Homo sapiens: one gene and its partner. The protein of the gene in region 1 interacts with the protein of each later gene in a pairwise test. Each region holds a gene or a part of one and is shown on either strand. Other genes may lie near its edges.

Evidence for each region.
Region 2: the proteins of LZTFL1 (region 1) and FZD5 interact in a two-hybrid assay, tested with the Homo sapiens proteins (one large-scale study listed by BioGRID and IntAct).

What each region holds. Positions count from the first base shown.
Region 1 is NC_000003.12:45,835,452-45,839,278, forward strand, and holds part of LZTFL1 (leucine zipper transcription factor-like protein 1), read right to left. Parts: intron 2,601-3,827; coding exon 2,476-2,600; intron 334-2,475; coding exon 139-333; intron 1-138. UniProt on the Homo sapiens protein: Regulates ciliary localization of the BBSome complex. Together with the BBSome complex, controls SMO ciliary trafficking and contributes to the sonic hedgehog (SHH) pathway regulation. May play a role in neurite outgrowth. May have tumor suppressor function.
Region 2 is NC_000002.12:207,761,771-207,764,981, forward strand, and holds the end of FZD5 (frizzled-5 precursor), read right to left. Parts: 3' UTR 828-3,211; downstream 1-827. UniProt on the Homo sapiens protein: Receptor for Wnt proteins. Functions in the canonical Wnt/beta-catenin signaling pathway. In vitro activates WNT2, WNT10B, WNT5A, but not WNT2B or WNT4 signaling. In neurons, activation by WNT7A promotes formation of synapses.

The DNA of each region.
Region 1 (3,827 bases):
ACTCAATGCTTTGCTGTTACCCTACCCAAATTTCCTCACACACTAGCCCCAAGAAAATATGCAGCCAAAGATGTTCACTAACTTTTAAGATTATGCTTGGGCCATTATTGTCACAGTTGCAAGTTCAAATTTTATTACCGGTTTTCAAGTTCAGAGATGTCTGTCTGTAGCTTAAGATACCACTTCTCAGCTTGTGCAAACAGCTGTCGCAGAAGTAACACATTGGTATAGGCAGTGTTGATGAGCTCAGATTCCACCTCACTATGAACCACAGCTTGTAATCCATTGAGGACTTCAGAGACTTCATCTATGGTGAAGGTGTCCTCCACCAGCCTGAAAAACAACCATGATCCAAAACTTATAGAAAAACAACAAGAAAAATCTACAAAATACAGCAAAATTAAGAAACCCACATTCATGTAATCTAAGAAATTCAAAGATTACAGTGAAAATCTCTCTGGGAACTATCTTCTTTATTAATAAACATTGAAAATAATTTAAACTCAATTAATTTTTGACATCTATTCAAATGATTAAATTGTGCACATCCTTTAATACAAGTAAATGCTCAAACACATTCCCAAAACCATCATCTACTTTTTTAACTTTTTAGTATTAAATGTCTTATTTCAAACTCCACTGAAATCAGTCTTATTACATTTAATAATTTCAAAAGTCACCCGGAAGGCATAGTCTCATTTCTTTCTAATATTTCTCTAACATTTTAATAACTGTATGAACTATTCACAGGTTAGTAAACGTCTATGGGAAATAAATGGTAATTATATATATTGCTTCTCTTTGCATTCTTGAGACCCAAAATAATAATAATAATAAAAACTAGCTTATCTTAAAGTTCTACTGAACACTCCACAAAAATGAATATCATCATCAACAATAGCATTAGAAATCTACTCTCAGGGCCAGGCATGGTAGCTCATGCCTGTAATCCCAGCACTTTGGGAGGCAGAGGCAGGTGGATCACTTGAGGTCAGGAGTTCGAGACCAATCTGGCCAACACAGCAAAAACTCTTCTCTATTAAAAATACAAAAAATTACCTGGGTGTGGTGGCACGTGCCTTAATCTTAGCTACTTAGGAGGCTGAGGCAGGAGAATCGCTTGTAACCAGAAGGTGGAGGTTGCAGTGAGCCGACATCATGCCACCGCACTCCAGCCTGGGCGACAAAGTGAGACTCCGTCTCAAAAAAACAAACAAAAAAACAAAACTACTCTTACATAGAGAATGCTTGGGTTGGAAGAGAACTTTGGTGCCATCTTCTACAATCCCCTAACTTTACAGATAGGAACACAGGTTTGAAGAGTGGAGATGACTTGCCTATGGTTACATTGGTGGTGACTAAACCCCACAATCATCTTCAGCAATGATTCTGGGCAAAGGATTCATGCCCAACAGCTAAATCCTTGAAAAAGCTTCTGTGTGTGCCTTCCAGTTTCAATGACAGTATCACAGTAACACAGTCCTCTCCTCTCCCTACCTCTACCCTCCAAAGTCCCTTCTCCCTCAGATTCTCAGCAGATGAAGAGCAGCTACCGCAACCTCAGCTTTATTTTCTTCCCTACTTCCAAAAAGACATCATCAAGCAAGACCCAGTTACACTAAAGCATTATCATAGTTAAACTCAAGTTAATAGTATTTGTTTTATAATTCTTTAATGTTTCATCTAGCCAGCAGAATTTAGTCATTCTCAAAAAACCACAACTTTTTAAATATAAATCCTTATTAAAATATTAATAATCTTTCTATATTCTTCAATAGAACATATGTTCTCGCCAATTAAATTGTTGCTTTCATCTGCTGGGGGATAGGAAACCAGATTACCAGATGAGTTTAATGGACTGAATGGTCTAAGGCTGATGGCCTCTAATACTGAGACATTCATGAGTTTATGGCAGCTGGAGCTCACTTGGAGGTCTTTTTCACTTATATCTGACTTGACATTCATCTCTTGCTACAAATCAGCTACGGTCCAACCATTATCATCTCATGCTAGAAATCAACTAACAATTTTGGTACTAGTCAGCATTATGATTTCCTGCTGTTTTCCTCTCTACTAATTATTCAGTATGAAACACAGAAGTGTTTTCTCACTAATTGCCATGTCTTATAGCTCTAACCATTTAATTAATAACTCAAGTAATTAAAGTTCTGGAATCTTCAATACAACAAGCCAATCATTAATCCACAAACCCTTGGCAACTTCCTTCTCAAACTCTGCCATCCTACAATTATCCTACAATTATCACATGCATTTCTGACAATAGATTCATTGCTTTCACCACAATACAACTTCTTTTGTTTCCTGTATCCATGAGGCTTAGTGTAGCTGCTCTTAGCAAATAATTGATCATGATGAATCCCAGAAATTGTCTGGCCTCTGCTATGGCACCCCCATACTGGCTACCAGAAAGAATCCATGTTCCTATTTGGTTTGCTTAGAGTCCTCCTCTGATACCTGCTCTCCTTGAGGTCTTGGAAGCAGGAATCTACAGTTTTGAGTCTCAAGCCTCTCTTTGAACGAGCAAAACGCATATAATTAATAACTTCATTTTGATGGTGCTCATTTAGGCCCAACTCTGCCTGAAAAAGAAAGAGGTAATTTAATTGTTAGTTTTGAAGATCTGATCAAAGAGCCAACAATGAAAATGCATAAGATATCCTGTGGTCGAGACTGCTAGATCTCCATCAAATTCTATTCTTCCCTTCTTCCTGGCTGCATGGCTGCCCACCTAGATGACACTTCCTTGCCCTCCTTGCAATCAAGTCACTGCTGACTACTTCTCAGCAATGAATGTTGTGGTCTACTTCCAAAGACCTGGTCTTAAGATATGGGGTGTACCTCTGCCCCTCCCTGTTTCTCTGAAACCTGGAAGAGGTGGCGACTTGACTGAATCATGCAGACAACATCAATGCCCTAGAGGCTGGGGGAGCCGCAAGATGAAAGGGCCCCACGTCTCTACCTCATGGAGAGGCACTGACCCTCTCACTGAACTGAGATGAGCAGTGAGATGGCTGTTAAGTGAGAGCGAAATAAACTTCTGTATTCTTCAAGCCACTTAACCTTACAGCAAAAAACAGCAACTCTGTTATAGCAGCTTAACCCTTACCCCATTAAATACAGCTTTAACAAGTATATTTGATTTGGAAAGAACCACTAACTGGTCTGTACTTTAAACCAGATGACAGCTTGACAAATATTTAAGAGGCAAGCCCATGGAGGTAGGGCTAGCACCCAAATAACAGAGCAGGTCAGCAGTCAGCTAAGAGCAAGGCATCAGCCATGTTAGTTGGATTTGTAATTAAGCTGCTGATGAGATTTACAAAGCAGTTTAGGTGGCATAAGTCTTTAAGGTCTGGAGGATAGAATGGAGATAGCAAGAGTTGAAGGGAAGCAAAAGGGAAATCTCTAAGGTACTCAAGTACAACAGGTTACAGTCATATATGCACTTGAGTTGTGAATAACAAGACAGATTTCTATTACACACTAAAAATAATTGACTACCTACATTAGAGACAATATTATCTCTGATAGTCACACATTAGTATGGGCAAGAATATCCCACAATTTAGAAATATCACAAAACAATGTCACAATTTGCTAAAAACAAAGCATAAATACAGATTCTTTTTTTTTAGAGACGGAGTCTCGCTCTTTCACCCAGGCTGGAGTGCAGTGGCGCAATCTCGGCTCACTGCAAGTTCCGCCTCCTGGGTTCATGCCATTCTCCTGCCTCAGGCTCCCGAGTAGCTGGGACCACAGGCGCCCACCACCACGCCTGACTCATTACTTGTATTTTTAGTAGAGAC
Region 2 (3,211 bases), on another chromosome or scaffold:
ATATTTTCTAGTCTGCCTCTCCTAACTACCTTATGCATCAATGTAATAAACTTCCTAGTGTTCACCTTGACATTGAATTACACACTCTCATAATGCTAACTTCTTACTGGATTTATGTTGTCTCCTACAAATATTTTAAGCTAATTACCCATGTTCTCCCACATACTTATGTCTCAGAGCGTTGGTGGAGAACACTGACATCCCAGGCATTAAAATGAGGTGGTGTTTGGTAGATGGTGGCTAATCTGCATTTTGCCAAAGCAGCATCAGTAGGTGGTCCAACAATAGTATCTCAGGCTTACTAAGCATCTGTCCAGATAACAGGGAAGAGCCAGCTCAGTCAGTGTTACTGTCTCTTCTGGGCTCCCTGACTTGTATTTAGAGCGCAATACCAAGTTGCAGATCCAACTGCTGGATGACAAAGTTTTGGGAGTTCCTGCCCTCCAACCGGACGCACAAAACAGCATCATCTCTAATCAAATTGGTTCAGTGTAAATGGAGGGTTTATAAAATAGAACGCAATCTCAGGCAAAGTCTCTGTTCTTCCACGTATCTGCCTTCATCAAGTGACTCATGAGACAATCACAGGATCGGCAGGAGTGAGACCTAGGAAAGATATTCAAGTAAAACATGTTTCTTAACTAGTTCTGTTTCTGGTGATTGGAATTTGCTTGATTTTACTTACTAATAAAATTTTTGCTGCTTATATTTTAAGTACATCTGAAAAACCTGATTATGAAGTTAGAATCCGTATTATCTCCTCGAATACTCTTAGAAAGCAATGTCTCTCTATAAAAACATGAGGAGAAAAAGACTTCTACAGCATCTTTTTATTGTCTTTACCATTACTTTAATGCATTTTAAAATTTATCTACATTAATTGGGAACAAAGAAAAATAGACATTTCTTTGTTTTTCATAAATAACTAATCTTCATATTTGATAAAAATCTCAAATGATTATTTTACCTTCCCACAAATATAATACATACAAAATTTTTCTGAAGTAAGGTCAACAAATTAAGTATCTTGAGACTAACATAACCACATACAACTGCTGTTTCTACTGACTCCCAGGAACGAAGCAGAAACAAAAACTCATCAAGCTGCTCTGGGTTTCCTTTTGTAAGTGTTACAGATTCAGAACTGTAATCATGTATCATCTGCCAGTAATAACATATGGATTCAAATTGATTGTCTACAAATAAAGTATCGCTGGCTCTAGTGTAACTTCTGGATTTAACATAACAGTGACTACAGCATGGGATAGGCACTATACATATATGGAAATCATAAACAGTATCGAATGCCCTGGACTTCAACTACTGACTCGGTATGTGCCTCATTTGGCTCAGTAATAAATTCACCTGCACCAAACCCGTATCAAAAGTCACCAAATCTCTCATATATATATATAATATATATTATGTATATATACAACCCACAAAACATACATACTATACATAGTTTGTAACAACATGAAGTCATACTGTCTTAAAATGATGCACTCACAGACAGACACTATCCTGGCTGAAATAAATCCTATTGTCATCAGGCTGCTAGCTTTTGAGAGTCTTGACTCAGGTTAGCTACTTATATTCTGCCTACTCTTCACCCTTCTTTAACGTCTTGGCAGTTCTTTCAGAACCACCCTCCGCAATCCAGACAGATTTGTTTCCCAGGATCACTTGATTGGACTTTGGAAACAAGAAAGAGCATGCAGAGGGAGCAGGCAATTCTTAGCCACTGTCCCTCACACCTGCCTATACGTGTGATGTGCTCTGTCCTGTTGGCCACATTTAGTGTTAGAAAGCAGTTATTCAAAGCTCTGTCCCTCCTACCCCCCTTGGGCTTTCTGTAGAGCACAAAAGTGAAAGAAGCTTCTTTGGCTGGGGTAGCAGTTCATTAAAATATACAACTACATTTCCTAGCTCTGGGGTTCCCATTCTGTACTGGAGAGTGCAGGTCACGGATGCTGTTATTAAGGTTTGGTGTGTGATCCATGAGGTTTTCTCCTGGCAGCCGGTGTCAGGATTAGCGCAGCTCCAGCCCAGGAGGCAACAGCCTAATGAATACCAACTTTGAAACAGTGCTGTCGGCACGTTATTTAAGCTTGTACATGCCCACAATTACACACAACACACACATGGGCCTTGGTCACTGGCAATGGTCATGAGAAAATATGAGAAAGGTTTGCAAGGAAAACCAATAAGGCACCAAGAAAAATTATTTCCAGTCAATTTTACCATTTCAAAATGTGAGAAGGAAAATCATAGAAATTAAAAAGATTTCCTAAAATCTGGTCAGCTAATTCACTGAGAGGTCCCATTAGTTCCTTTAGACAACCTACCTGAATGGAATCCTTACCCCCTAAGCTATGAAGTGAGGCATTGCTTAAAATCAAACTGAAAGGGACAGCCCTGAAGCTGTACACATAAGAGACTCCAATGGGCCCTAAGTCCTCCCCAGCTCCACAAAGCTGGCTGTGAAGAAGTTGCTGAACTACTCCATAACCTTTTATTTTACAGTTGCTTTCATGAGCATGACTTGTTTCCATAATCACATGCAAATTGGGGGAAGTAACTATATGGATGGAAACAGGGGGTGGCTGTAAGTAGATCCAGTTTCTCTCCCCTGGGGTGGCTGATCTCAGTAAGACTTAGGGATGCAGGTGGGCTTTTATCTTTGTCTCTCTTAGGGGATGAGGGAAGAGAGGGACAGCAGAGGTGAGAACAGAGACAAAGAAGTGCTTCTGAAAGTTGGTCTGGAATTAGACCCCAAAGATCCTGACTAATATTGCCCCCCACTTGGGCTTAGCGTCCTTTGTTTTAACTGGCTTATTTTTAAAGTAAATTAGTTGTTCAGCATGTTGCTAAAACAAAACAAAAAAAAATTCTAAAAATGAATTAAATCACTTTCATCCACTTCATCCCACAACTTTTGGATACACTGTGCATCATTTCCAGATTTCTCCACAAAGAAGGAGGGACAACCCAAATGAGGCACAATGACTGAAGGCAGCAGAGCAGTCTGTCTACTTTCTGGGAAGACATATGAAATGAGGGAAAAGGTCAAGGTGATCAGAAAAGGTTCTCTCATTTGAAAAACAGGAGAGGAATTGGCATTCAGTCAAGGGATCTATTTCAAGATTCTAGGAAGAGGCTTCTTCCTAGAAGAATAAATAGAGGAATAAAATAGGCACAAAGTTCTGTA